Linked DNA regions of Homo sapiens: region 2 is linked to region 1. A link means that fine-mapping ties the variant in region 1 to the expression of a gene that starts in the linked region. Tissue or cell type: fibroblasts. Region 1 holds a variant in brackets; the other region holds the start of a gene. All regions are shown on one strand. Distances are between the middles of the regions.

What was found. PIP is the estimated chance that this variant, and not a neighbour inherited with it, causes the effect.
Region 2: it holds the start of NDNF, and the variant in region 1 is fine-mapped to the expression of NDNF in fibroblasts (GTEx, PIP 0.90).

What each region holds. Positions count from the first base shown.
Region 1 is chr4:120,439,008-120,447,117 of GRCh38, forward strand. No RefSeq gene overlaps it. Among named protein-coding and RNA genes, the nearest start is that of MAD2L1-DT, 380 kb to the left of the region's middle. The variant G/C (reference allele first, on the strand shown) is at 4,516.
Region 2 is chr4:121,069,249-121,077,341 of GRCh38, forward strand. It overlaps NDNF (neuron derived neurotrophic factor), which reads right to left and starts at 3,287. Exons shown (of 4, transcript NM_024574.4): 1 at 2,745-3,287. It overlaps NDNF-AS1 (NDNF antisense RNA 1), which reads left to right and starts at 2,114. Exons shown (of 3, transcript NR_187407.1): 1 at 2,114-2,332; 2 at 4,502-4,616.

The sequences.
Region 1 (8,110 bases):
TTTACATTTTGGGTTCACATCCTCATAATGTCTCATCTGACTCACACACCTGAACATAACATTCCCCTAGTCAGGGCTCTCCTAGAGAGTGGTTATCTTGAAGAGTGATATCTAGAACAAATTTTTAAAAATCATAATAGAGATTACAACAATTGGTTATTGTTTATTAATGAGCATACATACATTTGAGAATTGTCAAATAAGGAAGGTTAAAAGAGAATTATCAAACAAGGAAAAGAGACTGGGGCCTTGCTTTAGCTTATATGTGCCCCCCCAAATTCATGTGTTGGAAACTTAAGACCCAATGCAACAGTGTGGGGAAGTAGGTTTTAATGGGAGGTGCCTAGGACATGAGGGCAGAGAAGGGCTTTCAGGACTGGACTCTCTTACCTTTCTACTTTCTGCCATGTGGGAATTCATGTGCAAGGTGCCTTCTCGGAAGAGGGGAACAGCCTCTCTAGACACCAAAACTGCAAGTGCCTTACCTTACACTTTAGACTTGCCAGCTTGCAGAACTGTGAGCCAGTAATTTCCTGTTCATTATAAATTAGAATCTCAGGTGTTCTGTCATAGCAGCGCAAAATGGACTAAGATAGAACTTTTAACCCTTTTTTAATCTGTCTGTGACTTGGTGCTCTTTGCTACTTTATATATTATGATATTAAATTCCCCCAACAAACACGTGGTAGATTTGAAACAGAAACATGAGAGGAAAATGTCTTGCTCCTCAGCAAATGTGCTAGTCAAGTAGAAACAGGTGGGGTGACCTACTTTGCATTTTGCATGGATGAAAAGATTTCAAATTTATTTTTCTTGTCTTAGGGATTTGTATTCCCAAAATTGAAAACAGTTTAAAATAGGAAAGGTGTGAGCTTATTAGCACAGTAATACCCTCTAAATTCTCACTCCCTGGTGAAAGTAGAAAAGTGCTAATTAATCAATTGCTCAATTAAGATAGGCTCTTAAGAGCACTTTTGTCCTGGGAAAATATAAGCAGCTGATAATCTGCCTTGAGAAAAATGCATCTTACAGGAATTATGTTCAAAGTAGAGTATTTGGGGTACAACCCTCCAGATGAAAATGTATTTATTACTGACAGATTAACTCTCACTTGAAGTCCTTAGTTTTGAGGATGAATGTTCTCCGATGAGACAATATTATACATAGAAAAAATGAACATAAAGTTTACGCTTCTTTATTTACTCATTTAAGTAGTTATTTGTTGGATGTCTATGCACCTTCATAGGATTTTGTGAGGCTTTGATAATCTACACAAAGTGCTTGGAGGTTGTGATGTAAAGGAAAGATAATATTCAGATGAGTGAATATCATCCAAGTAATGTCTATCTTCAATACCACAAGTGCAGTAGTAGATATAGCCACATATTTTTCATGACCTTATTAACAAGCAGGGTGCTGTACTAGAGATGAAAGAGATGGAGACCTTGATCACAGAGGACAAGCTGGGGCATGCATAGGAAGGGAGGCTGCACAGGTACCAAAAGCCAGATCATCAGAAGACTTTGTGGGCTATGTGAAGAAATTTAAACTTCATTATGGGAAACCATAAATTGTTTTAAATTATGAATTACTGTGATCAGTCCTGGTTTTTAGAATAAGTCTGAGGTCAGTGTGGGGGCATAAGAAGAGTAAGACTTAAGACTGAGACAACAGACATGTGCAAATCACAGAGAAATCTGAGGAGAAAATCTGGAGACTTAAGTTAGAATACTAGAATTCCCATTAACTAGCCGTGTGATCTGACCAATAAACAAACCTCCCTGAATTGCCGTTTTCTAATCTAGAAAATGCTGTGATAAGAAGAAGCAGTTCCACAGACATGAAGTTCAAGCTCACTGGGCTCCCTTCAGTGTTCTGTTTCACAGCTGAATAGGCAGGTTCCTGACACAGTTGGACCCAAGGGGCCCCAGGAATCTGCACGTACCCCATGTTCATCCTTCTGCTTTCATACTTGTCCTCTGGTTGGTTTTCATGCTTTCTCTGACATTTTGCCTTCTAACTGAATCCTGTTCCCCTTTCTAGCCAGTTGCAAAGAAGCTGGTTAGACTACATATTGGCTTTTAATGTCAGAATCTCTCTTTTGAATCATCCTCTGTTCCATGATCAGTAACCGCCTCACCAGCCTGCTCTGCCCTGAGAACCAGCCCACTTCTCCAGAGGTACTTTGTGTCCTTATCAACAGCATTATGCTGAACACATATTAGGATTTCAAAAGATGTAGCTGAACTTGCCACAGTGGTCTGTGATCTTTCCTGTCATCTGGCCCAGGCAGAGAAACTTCTTGCTTCATGTCAGGAGCACATGTGGCATCACTGGAGACATTCATGATAATTCTAGGGTGTGAATTGATATTTGCCAGGGCATCATATTACTGCTGAGCTAGTACCTATTTACTTCTCTTTGCTTTTCTACTTGGTTTTGATCTCTATTTGATACATTTCTTTCATTCTTTTAGTTATCTGTTCTTCTGGGACTCCAGGAATAATGAAAACTAAAATAACATTTTAATGTTATATTTTATTAAGGTTATATTAAATGTCAAGAAAAAGAGTAAACAAAAGATAGAAATTTTCCTCTGATTTCATTAAAGTGATGCTAATAAATGTCACACAGCTCATATCACTCAGTTGACCAAACGAATTACACAAAATAACATGGCCAAATAACTATTCTTTCACACTTATACTTTTTGTAGTATTCTTTAGAGTTAGAACAAAGTAAATATCTCGCCCTGAAAGTCATACTTGCCATCAACTTTTCTCTCTTTAATGTTAATTCAATTGGTTACCAACAAGGCCAGCTATAATATAATTCATAATCAATAAAATAAATACTTGTCATGTGTCTGGTATTGCAAGTAAATCTTCTATCCCCCCTCCTGGTGTTTTCTTCCAAAGACAAGGAGCTCAATAAGCATAACGCTCCTGAGTTTTCTTTCCCTCTTTGTTTGTTGTACTCTGAGTGCTGAAGCACATTAGTGGTATACCTGTATCAAAGTTGGCAAGAATTTCAAGTACATGGTTTTTAAGACTAATGACCCAGTGTTGTGTGTATATGAAATATGAAAGAATGAAAGAAATGTATCAAATAGAGATCAAAACCAAGTAGAAAAGCAAAGAGAAGTAAATAGGTACTAGCTCAGCAGTAATATGATGCCCTGGCAAATATCAATTCACACCCTAGAATTATCATGAATGTCTCCAGTGATGCCACATGTGCTCCTGACATGAAGCAAGAAGTTTCTCTGCCTGGGCCAGGTGACAGAAAAGATCACAGACCACTGTGGCAAGTTCAGCTACATCTTTTGAAATCCTAATGTGTGTTCCGCATTATGCTGTTGATAAGGACACAAAGAAGATTGTGCATTCATGTTTTTCAATACTACTGAGAAGAAAAAAAAAGGTTGAAACCTTTTTCTTTTTTTTAATTTTTCACCTCCTTTTTTATGTAGGATATTGTAAATAGTATAACATAATCGCGTCTACACATCTAAAGCAAAAAAGATGGTTAGCATAGCGCTGACTGTGGCAAAGAGTAGAGAGGGAAAAATGTACCTAGCAAGGAGCAATCCCTTGTACCTGTAAATGAAAAAAATATATATTTTGTAAGTTAAGACATATTTCTTCCTAATCATTTTCCAATATTTTTACTAGCTTTTCATCACATATTTAAAATATTCATCTTTACTTTCCAATTTAAAATGAACTCTAATCTTTGATTTCCAAGATAATTCAACAGAAACAACACATACACTGAAGATAAACTATTTTGTGAGATATACACTTGCGTATTTGTATAAAGAATCCAGGAAATAAAATGACATAAAGATGATATATGAAATAATTTGATGAATATTAAAGGTAATATCGAAAAAGTAAATAGTAAGCAACAATTGTGGTAAGTTGGTCAAGTGGAAGCAAGTGTAAAACTAAATAATTACTAAATGTGATTACAGACTACTAGGGAAGAAGTTGAAAAGTGGATTGGCTACAGATAATGGATGCTATGTGACTAACGACAAAGATTTCTGTTTCTTTAGGCTTCTGAGAACAATGTTGGTCCCATAACCTGGATGGAACTGCGCTTGCATATGGACACTAAGTAATGCCAGCTGTGAGGATTAGAGGGCCATAGGGACGCAAACCAGGGAAGATATTACAAATTCCTTGAAAATTTTGTTGGCACAGCTTCCTGCAGTCAGATTGCTCATATAGCATAACTGCCTTAAAAATGTTTAAAGTTCCATCACAAAAGCCAAAACCTTTTGTTGATAAGATGGGTTTAATGCAGTGAGTCTCACACTTGGCTAAACATTAGAATCATCTAGGGAGCTTTAACAAAATACCAAGGTTCAGATCCCAAGAGATTATGATTTCATTGGTCAGGGATGGGGCCCAGGCATTGGTATTTTTAAGCTGCCCTAGAGATCTGAATGTACAGCCAAAATTGACAAGTCTTGGATTCCTGGTTAATAGCTCAGAATCTAGAGTCATA[G/C]TGGTTGGTTTAAATATGTCCCTGCTCAGCCTCTTCCTAGCTGCGTAACCTTGGAAAAGTGATTTACATAGTATTCCTCTATTTATCTCTTTCTCTCTGCAGTGTGGATAAAACAGCACCTATCTAAGGACTGATCTAAATTTTGCAGAGTCAGAATCTATTGCAATTTTGAAAACTCTCTTTGAGAAACAGAATATGTAACATTATTAATGTAAACAGGTACAGAGTAAATTTTTCTTTAGAATGATAAAATATCTTACTACTAATTACACATTTTTAAAAGCTGACACATTCAGAAAACTAACATCAATTTTTACTTAATTACCTAACAGTGTTTTCTAATATTTTTTCTAATTTTTTTGCCTGCATACCCTTTACCTCTTCACATGACAATTATTTTTCATTCTTTTTTTGTGAAGAGTATAAAAGAATTCATTTTTACAATAGCGCAATTCATCAAAAACTATGTTTAATTACTGATAGTTTAGTAAAGTTTCTTACACCATCACAACTCTTTATTGTCAGTCACAGGTAAATATTTAGGATTGCTGTCATAATTGGGAATACTTCTTTCAAAGTTCTGTCATATGGGAGGTGTTAAGAGTTGGGAGCATTTCAAGTTTTCAAGTATTGTAACTAATCTTTAAAACTCTTTTAATAGATGAGTCTTTTAAACTTGTTTTCAGAGTTTTAGGTTGTCTTTGTTGATATCAGTACTTTTTGGCAAATCTGAAGTGATTAGCAAAGACCAGTACCAACGTGAGTAGTGAAACCCATTTAAGACTGAGAGAAGAGCACGAGCAAAGATCTTGTCTAGCAAAGGCAGGCAGTCGAATTTACAGAGTGTAGTGCACAGCCAGGGCAACAATGAGCAGCAAGCTCAGTAAAGCTCAATAAAGTTTTAGAGCCAGAGATGGAGGTGAAAAGTAGTGTCAAATGCTGGCACAGGGCTAAGGATAGAATATCTGCCTTTAAAAAAATCAAATGCCTGTGCTATATATAATGCCTATACTATATATAAATGCCTACATATATAAATGCCTATGCTATATATAAATATATATACATATATGTACATATGTATAAATATATATCTAGCATAGGCATTTGATATAGATATATATGTGTATATATACATATATACATATATAAATAAATATATAAATAAATAAACACATAAATGTATATGTACATATCTACATATCTATATATGTATATATAGCATAGGCATTTGATACAGATATATATGTGTATATATATATAAGTTTCTGTGATATCAGTTGTATATCTTTTTTTAATCTCATTTATTTGAGCCTTTTCTCTTTTTTCTTAGTCTAGCTAAAGGTTTGTTAATTTTGTTCAATTTTTAAAACCCAATTATTCATTTTGTTGATCTTTTAAATTTTTTTTCAGTCTCCATTTCATTTATATTTGCTCTGAGCTTTATTATTGCCTTTCTTCTACCAATTTTGGATTTATTTATTTTTTAAATTTTCTTGAGGTGCATGGTTAGGTTGTTTGTTAGAAATCTTTCTTTTTTGATACAGGCATTTATTGCTATGAACTTCCCTCTTAGAGCTGTGTTCCATAGTTTTTGGTACGATGTGTCTCCATTCTCATTCATCTTAAAGAATTTTTAAATTTCTCTTTAAATTTATTCATTGGCCCATTAATAGATTTGGGAGCATGTTTTTTAATTTCCATGTATGTGTAAGGTTTCCAAAGCTTTTCTTTTTGATTTCTAGTTTTATGCCATTGTAGTCTAAAAAAATACTTGATATAATTCTCTATCTTCTTAAATTTGTTAAGACTTGTTATGTAGCCTGACATTCTCTCTGTTCTGGAGAATGTCCAATGTGTAGTTGAGATGAATGTGTATTCTGCAGCTGCTGGATGAAATGTTCTGTAGATGTCTGTTAGGTCCATTTGGTATAAAGTGCAGTTTAAGTCCAATGTTTATTTTCTTTTTTCTTTTTTTTTTCTTTTTTCTTTTTCTTTGGAAACAGAGTCTTGCTCTGACACCCAGGCTGGAGTGTGGTGGCATGATCTCGGCTCACTGCAACCTCCACGTCCTGGGTTCAAGCAATTCTCCTGCCTCAGCCTCCTGAGTAGCTGGGATTACAGGCCCGTGCCACTACACCCAGCTAATTTTTGTATTTTTAGTAGAGATGAGGTTTCACCATGTTGGTCACGCTGGTCTCAAACTCCTGACCTTGTGATCAGTCCGCCTTGGCCTCCCAAAGTGCTGGGATTACAGGTGTGAGCCACTGCTCCCAGCCTCCAGTGTTTCTTTGAATTTCTGTCTAGATGATCTGTCCATTGTTGAACGTGGGGTGAAGTTCCATTCTATCATTGTATTGCAGTCTACCTCTCTCTCTTTAGCTCTATTAATATTTGCTTTATATAATGGGTGCTCCCGTTTGGGTGCATATACACTTATAATTATTATATTCTCGTGTTGAATTGATCCTTTATGATTATATAATAATCTTCTTTGTCTCTTTTTACAATTGTTTACTTAAAGTCAATTTTATCAGGCATATGTTGCTACCCCTGTTTGCTTTTGGTTTCTGTTTGCATGGAATAACTTTTTTCATCCCTTCACTTTCAGTTTATGTTTGTCTTTAACAGTAAGCAGTAAGGTGAGTCATATAGTTGGGTCTTGTTTTTTTGTTTGTTTGTTTGTTTTGTTTTTTAATTTGTTTGCTTTTTTAGCCATTCTGTCTTTTAATGAGATAATTTAATCCATTTACCCACAAGGTTATTATTGATCAGTTAGGGCTCACTCCTACCTTTTTGTTAATTGTTTTTTGGTGGTTTTGTAGATCCTTTTTTTTATTTGTCATTTTTTCCTCTCTTGTTTTATCCTCTGTGGTTTGGTGGTTTTCTGTGTTGCTAAGTTTTGTTTGTTTTGTTCTTTTCTCTTTCTCATTTGTGTATCTGCTGTAATTTTTTTCTTTCTGGTTACTATGTGGCTAACATAAAGATTGTTACGTTATGTTATGAACTGTATCTATAGCAGGGATGTAGGATGCTGTATCTATATAGTAGGAATGGGGAAAGACAGATGTTGATCAAAAGGTACAAAGTTTCAGTAATAGTGGAGGAATAAGTTTTAGTCATCTATTATCATGCATGATGACCACAGTTAATAATAATGTATTATGTATTTCAAAATTGCTAAAAGGATACATTTTTAACATTCTCACCACACACACAAAAATGATAAATTGGTAAGGTGATGGACATGCTAGCTTGATTGAATCTCTACAATGTATACAAAGACCAAAACTTCACATTATATCCCACAAACATAAAATTGCTATTTTTCAATTAAAAATAAATAAATGAATAAATAAATAAAAAAAATTTTCAACCCTGGGGATTGAGCACCAAAGGTATGAAAGGTCGTATAGTATAAGGTTAAGGTTTACATCTTGAAACACACAGACTTAAATTTTAATTCTACCATTTACTAGCTTGTAATATCTTGACAGAAATAACAACCACACAAAGAGGTAACTGCAAACCACATAAGCCCATCCAACAGAACCCAAATACGCCAACTCAACTTTTCCTTAGCCAGATCCCAAAA
Region 2 (8,093 bases), 630 kb after region 1:
TGTGACAATAGTCTTTACTCTTTAACATTCATACTTCACCATATGAATGTTAAACAGACCCAGGACAAATAAGCTGAGGGTGGGGGCTTCTCTTGTCCTTAGAAGGATATTTTTCAATTACATATTTTGTTACATCCTAAGAGATAAAAGCTGTATCTGCAAGTGATTAAAAGATGTTTTATATTCATGGTTTCATTTCTGCTGAAATAAATGCGTAATTTAAACCAAACATAATTCATAGCAATTTAGGCCTATTACAGAGTTCTAGCTTCTTTTTTATGATAGTTACTAATTAAAACAGAGTGTTACTGCCACACTAAGCCTAAGTCTTTGACATACAGGTTTAATGAATAAAATGTCCTGACACAAAAATGAAAGCAATAATGCAGACAAGGCTGCAAGCTGTTATGTTTCAAGTGTGTGGTAAAGATTAAGGGCATTCACTGAAGTGATGAACTGTGCAGAGAAGGACCTTGTAATTTCTTTCTCTAAAGGAAGAAGTAAAGGAATTTTTAGAGAAATCTGAAATAGTACTAATTTATCTAACTCCTAGGCCCCTCATTCCCAGTTGTCCCTCTCTCCCCTCCAAGAGTTTAAACTCATAAGAGTCACTTCTGAGGAATAAATGATGGGGTATTTTAATATAATCCTGAATATAGGTTTAGATTGAAAATGGGAATTGGGACCATAATTAATTATGTTGCCAAGTTTTTTAAACTTTAAGAAGACAGATGGAGGCAAATGACATTTTATAAGAGTGCAACCTTCTAAAAGATCATAGATTAAAACTGTGGTAAAACGACAGTATCTTTTTTGACATTTGATTAATCCCATATGCAGAATGACTGAAGAATTAATACGGTTTTGGTGTTTTCACTTTCTGAAACCACTGTAATAAGAGACTGACATAAACTCAAACCCCAGTATAAACACAGTCTGAGCGAAGGTTGCGGCCTTATTATCACTCTTAACAAACAATAATGAATAATCATACCGATCGCCCTCACTACACTCTGCTTTATATACATATTCCCTCTCGGATCCATCCATCACTTCTTTCAAGATAATAAAACAATTCAATCCCATCAAATCCCCTGCAACCGCTCCCTTGGGAGGGATGTTTTATCTCTACTTCTCCGAACCCAGGGAGGATTTTACTTGTTTGAAGGGGGCGGAGAATGGAGCGGAGTCCTATTTATTTCCATTGATGACTCCCCTGGTTCTCACAGGCGCTCAGGGACCGGGTGGGAGGAGGAGAGGAGGAGGTGCGGAGATTCCCTCCGTCAGAAAAGAAAAAGGGTTCAGGAAGCGAGGCAGCAGGAGGAGGGGTGGAGGGGGGAAAGAGAGGGTAGTGTGTTTGGGGAAAGCAGCAACTAAATGAAAAAATAAACTCTTCTTTGTGATTTAGCGGGATCGACAGATGAGAAGCAAATTTATCAACCCAACAAAGTTGCTAAAAAGAACTCTGTAAATAAATTTAAAGAAAAGAAGGAAAAAACATAACAACAACAACAAAACCCAGACATACACTCAGGTTCATTTCCCGCTCAAGGTCTTGGTTTTAGGGAGCCACCCGTACCCAAGAGCAAGAAATGGACAGCGCCCCGAAGGGGGCCAGGAGGGGAACCGCAACTTGGCCGGAGGGACAGCTCAGAGACAGCGTAGAGGTGCCCGCGGCAAACTCCGAGGAGCTGATGCGGGGCGGGTCCGGGGAACTGCCGGGAGCTCTCACGCCTGGGCCTGGGATAGGGTGCGGGCAGAAAGGTGAACCGAGAGCGCACAATGCAACGAAACCGCACTCCAAATTCAGCAGTTTGCAAAGTGCCTCCAAGAAAACAGCTGGGACCTGCAATCACTCGTTCGGACTCCTAGGTTATCGGGGCCGCGGCGACTCCGCTCAGTTAGAAAGGTAGCGCGGGTGAGAGCGAACCCCAACTCACGCACAGACAGGACGAGGGCACGAAGCCGAGTCTCCTGGCTGGGGCCGTAGGGGGCGTCACCTCGGTGGCCGCTCTGCTCTCCGGAAGAAAGTATGAGCCGGTCCCAGGCCACCTCGCTCAGCCCAAGGAAGTTTCTATAACGATGCTCGCCTACCACGCAGAGGACAAATGAGGAGCCAGAGCGGTTGGGGGTCGGGCCAACCGAACTCCCGGCCCCGGCTGCGCAGCTCCCAGACGCCCACCAAGAACTCGTGCGCTGCCTGGACCTCTAGCTTTTCGCCCTACACGCAGACGCCCTCTGCAAAACCCCAGTCCCGCAGACTTTCCCTAGCGGCGGGCGGAGGGCATGAACCTGGAAAGGGAGGCAACAGCCCTCTTGGCAGGCGGGCAAAGTAAGTGTCCAGGCTAAGTCCGGGATAAAGGCTCCGCGGCTCCCCAGACCCCACTGCACCCCGAGCTCCCGGGTCCCAGGTCTTCCCCGCCCTTGCGCTGTCTGTCCACCTCCTCACATCTCTCCGGGCCGCCCAGCTTCGAAAGCAGCTAAATTAAAAACAAACAAACAAACAAACAACAACAACAATAAAAAAAAAAAAACGAGGGAAACCTGCTCCTGCCCCTCATGCCCTCAGCTCCTACGGATAGGGCGCCCTTGAGAAGCTTCTTGGGCCTTGAAGATTTGGGGGCGCGTGCCTCGAGCCCCCATCTCGGATGACCCTTCGGGCGTGAACGCTCCTTGTGCTAGGTCTCAGGGTGGCGGGCTAAGGCGTCGGGTCTCTGGGGCATTGCTTTCCTCTCCCCACTTACCTTAAAAAGATCTGTTTTTCGTAGGGAAAATAGAAAAAAATCCCTCCCCGTGGTGTGGTGTGCGAAATAGTCCACGTCCCCGGACCCTGCCAAGATGCTAAGCACCAATATCCAGGAACGAGAAGCCTGGAGGGCGGGGACGGAGGCAGATAAAAGAGAAAAATTCAATCCGCTGAAGTGTCCCAACTTTGCGGTCGGCACAGCAAACTTCAAAGGCGGGCGAGGGCGGGCGGCGCGCGGTCGCCGAAGTTGCTGCGAAGTGGAGTAGGGAGCCGCGCGGGGCTGGGGAATCCCGGGGCAGCGCCGAGAAGCGGCGGGAGGTCCTTTTAAACTGCAGGGAGCGTGCGGGGGCTGGGCGGCGGGAGGATGCCGCAGCGACCCGCGGGGCTGGCGCGGGCTTCGCCGGCCGCCGCTAGTCGCACAGGCGCCTGGCTGGAGCGCCGCGCGGGGTGCTGGGAGAGCCGGGCGCACGGGGCGGCAGCGGCCGTGGCGGGTGCGCTGCTCAGTTAGCTCCACTCTCTCGCGGCTGGAAGTGGGGAGTGTGTGTTCGCTCCCGAGTGTCACTGCTGAAGCCCGGAGTCTCTTCCCCTCCCAGCCCTAACCCCTCCCGCCTCACCGCTGCCCGCCCGCCCCCTCCCTCCTCTGCCCGTTGCCTCCCCCTCCGTCCCTCCTTCTCTCCCTCCCGCTGCGCGCCAGCGCGCACGCACACACACACACACACACACACACTCATACACATACACACACTCACACACAGACACCCTCTCCCTCCTTTTCTCTCTCCCTGTAGCCCTCCCTCCCTCTCTTTCTCTCACACACACACCACCCTGCTCAGCGACCCAGCGCTCCCCAAACAGGACCCTCGCGGGCGGCATCGCGAGGGACACGCTGCTGTCCTAACCTTAGCGCCACTCGGGGAGAATGAAGGAGGCCCACCGAGCCCCCGACAAAGCTGCAAAACCCAGGAGACGCGCACGCGGGACCATCACACTGTCAAGCAGACCGGGGTGCACAATAGAGGGAAACTCTGGGGTTGATCTGGGGGCAGGGAGGGGGACGTGTTAAATCCAGAAGGTTGGTGGTTGGAGGCGGAAAGCAGAGTGTGCAAACTGTGCATTCATGTCCCACTTTTCACCCGAACGCCTGCCTATCACAGCCTTCACTCAGGGAGCGCTTCCCCCTCGGCGCAGACCGAGCCTCCTCCGATTTGAAACTCAGCAGCTGTTTTAACAATTGAAAAAGCGGCCCTACAGGACCAGTGAAACGGAGCAGAGTGTGTGAAGCCATTAAGGCTGACTAGGTAATTATGATAAAAAGTTACCTAATTAGCAACCTGGCCTGGGCTTAGGAAAACCAAGAAAAAAAAAGTACCGAATGATTTGGTGATCTCATTTTTGCAACTGAGAACCTGATTTCCAGCAAACCTGGTTTTATATAAGTTCTAATAATATATAATTATTTATTAAGATATAGTGTCAGTATTGAAAACACTAGTTCTGTTATTGCCACAATGAAATTAAGGTAGGTAGGATGAAAATCAGCCTTATCCCGGTCATATTAAGAACTATGATCTTTTTTGCTAAACAGTTGGTCACAGAGGGTGGACCAATGCAGCTCCTAAAGTTTTGTGGTTCCTAGATGAAAACACTGCAGGAAATGGATTTATAAAACCGTTTACACGACATAAAATAGTTTTGTAAAATTTTTAAACACTGAAAAGGACATTTCAGATCACTGTGCAAGCATATTTTTTGCAGATGAGACAATGAGGTGAGAAAAGTCCTCATTGTATCTCCACTTAGGAGATACGATCTAGAGCAGATCCCTGGGTCATTCATTAACAAAGCTTACGAAGTCCCTGCTGTGTACCAGGTATGTCTTATGTGCTGAGATTTAGAGGTGATGGTGCTGCCTTTAAGGAACTCACCGCCTGGTGAGGAGACAGAGGCATAAATGAAAATGTGATTAGCACTATAATAAGTGCAGGTACCTGGTCCTGTGGAAGCATGGAAAAGGAAACAGCTAACTCCCCTTCAGAAGCTTCTCTTGGTAGAGATTTCAGTGTAGAGTTCTGAAAGACAAGGAAGAAATACAAGGCCAACAAGGATGTGGTGGAGGGGGGAGGGCATTCCACAAACAGAAGCAAGTGAAGAGGTTAGGAAAGTGTCAAAGTACATGGTGTGTCCTGGAAACTAGGAGACTAGGTGCGGCTAGACTGCAGGTGAAGTAAGCAAGGCCAAGCCACACAAGGCTCTCTGGGTGTAAGGAGCCAGAACTTGCCTGGAGGTGGTGAGTAGTTGGGAAACTGTTAAAGGTGTTAAGCTAGGACAGATTCTAAGGTTTGTAAGTATTATTAGATAATGTGTTTTAGAAGGTTTCCTCTGGTTTCACTGTGCAAGACAAATAGAAGAGAGATCACAGTGAGGTTATTTCCAGAGGAAAAATTAGGTCTGAACCAAGGCAGCAGAAATGCTGTTTGGGAGGTTAGGACAGCTCTAGAGATATTTAGGAAATAGAATAGACAAGGCTTAGTGATTGATTGGACATAGAGGGTAATGGAGAGAAGAGAGTCTAGACTGACTCCCAGTTTTCTGGCTGGTGCGCTAAGGCAGGGATGGTGCCACTAGCCAAGAGAAACACACAGAGAGGAGCAGTTTTAGGAGGAATGTAATGAGTTCTGTCTTAAACTTGTGGAGTTGGGGGTGCCTCTGTGACATCTGAGTGCCCTGCCATTTAGGCAGCCAAAAGGAAAGTTCCTAGGAGGGTAGACAGGAGCTGGAAGGATACATTCAGGTGTCTGGCAAGCATGGGGGAGGAGTAAGGCAGCCAGGAAGAGAAGACTTAGGATGGGACATGGCAGACACCAATGTCTTAGACATGGATGAAGGAAGAGGACCCTGCAAAAGAAAGGGATGAACACCAGAGAAGAAGGGCAACAGAGTAGGACCAATGAAGCCAAGGGAGGACAGGGCTAGTGACCAGGGTAGAAAGAGGCAGACAGATGGAGACAACTAGACTGAAAAGCTGCTGCTCTTATTTACAAAAAGTCTTGGTATTCTTGACCAATGCAATTTTAGTTTATGCTGCATGTATATGAGGATCACTTCCCTCTTTGGTACATTGGGGCAACACTATCTACCCCCATGCATTTCACAGGGTTGATTGGGAATTCAAATGAACCAGTGATTGGGGTATTGATTTAAAATTGCCATTAGGAAGAAACTGAGTGCTAATGATGTTAGAGAGACATCATTAATTCAGGCAATTAATGACAGACCTGAGTCTGTAGGAAAGTTCTGTAAGGACTCTGTGAATTTCATAAAATTCATCAAAATATCTGTGTTTTGAACATCAGGATTTGCATATATCAGTATACTCTGTCTTCTAAAAAAACAAGCCACCGATAAAACCAGTGGCATTGTATATATTTATATTTATATATATATGTAAGTTATCTTCAGTGTTTTGAGAGACTTGGGTAATGTGCCATATTAGATAGAACATATGTTATTTAGCCAAACAGGCTTATATTTAATTCTAGACTCTGAAAATTATTTGCTGTAGGACAAAACCTCTTTGAGCATCAGTGGCTTTTTTCAAATATAAAAATGGAATAAATTATAGTTGACTTACAGATGTTTTGTGAGGATTGGATAGTATAACATATTCAAGTGTTTGCAAGATATTTACATATTTATATCTGCATTTACTTTTAAACCAGGCAATTCTTAAATATGCAATTGGAGGAAAAAGCCAAAAACTATTATAAAACCAAGAGTGAATTTAAGTCTATTTAGGAGAACTACTGGTTGAAACCTATGTTTTAAGGCAGCAGTCATCAAACTGGGGTTCGTAGACCCATGGGGGTTTCTGAGATCCTTTCAGGGGAGGTCTGCAAGGACAAAGCTAGTTTCATATTAATTCTAAGACATAATTTGCCTTCTTTGACTGTGTTGACATTTGCACTGATGATACGAAAGCAATGGTGGGTAAACCTGCTAGCACCTTAGCATGTTCAAAGCAGTGGCACCCAACTATCCTGGTAGTTATTGTATTTTTTACTGCCCCAAATATGAGTTTCGCTTAAGAATGTCTTTGATGAAGCAGTAAAAAATACTTATTTTATTAAATTTCAACTCTTGACTATGTCTTTTTAATATTCCGTATGGCAAACTGGGAGGCACAAATAAAGCTCTTCTGTGGCATACTAAAGTGCAGTTGTTTATCCTGAACGAAGACATTTATGTAATTGATTTGTGAGCTAAACTACCTGCTTTTTTATGTGACATATTTTTACTTGAAAGAACAACTGACAGACAAACTATGGTTACTCAGACTTGGATACTTAGCAAACACTTTTTTAAAAAAATTTTTTAACAAATGAATGAAGTCAGCCTGTCATTTCAAGGCAAACAAACAGCAATATTTATTTCCAGTGAAAAACTTGAACTTTTGAGTAAAAAATTAGAATTTTTAAAACTTGTTTTTGTCACCATGAGCTTGACAGTTTCCCAGTACTTAAAGTCTTTCCTAGTAAGATCGTGATCATTTAAATGAATGTGGTTTTAGATATCGTACAATGACATATATCAACATTTGGAAGAACTGCATAGCTCAATGAACAAGTATTTTCCAAATGACTAATAATGCATCATGATCTAAAATCACGCATAAGGATCCATTCAAAATGCAAAATAGACGAACGGGTTTTAATGTAACACAGTATGAAAAGTTAACTGATATGGTTTCATATTCCATACTGCAATTATAAGGTTTAAGAAACTACCATTTGTTGAGTTATGGTGTCACGTTAAAGAAGAATATCCAGAATTGTTTGAAAAGATTATTGAAATGTTTCTTCATTTTCCAACTACATATCTGTGAAAAATTGGATTTTCCTTTGTTTGAAGATATACTTCAAACAAAATAAATTGCAACAGATTGAAAACAGACATGATATGAGAATTCAACTGTCTTTTATTAAGCCAGACATTAAAGAGATTAACAAAAATGTAAAACATTTCTTTGGAAAATAATGTTACTTTAATGTGCAGTAGGTTTACTATAGTTATTTAAATGAATTAATAAATATTTTAAAGATTTCTGTTGTAATTCATAGGTTGACTATTGAAAGAAATAACCTATATAACAAAAACTCCTTGGGGTCCACAATAATTTTCAGACTGTCAAGTGGCCCTAAGAACGACTGTCATATGAACTAGGCTCACTCATGAAAGAAGGTTGAAAGATCATCAGAAGCTTATGATAATATTCTGCCCATGGATTGGCCATCACCTCAGTTGTATTGTATAATACAATTCTCATTTTACACAAATGTAAATAGATCCT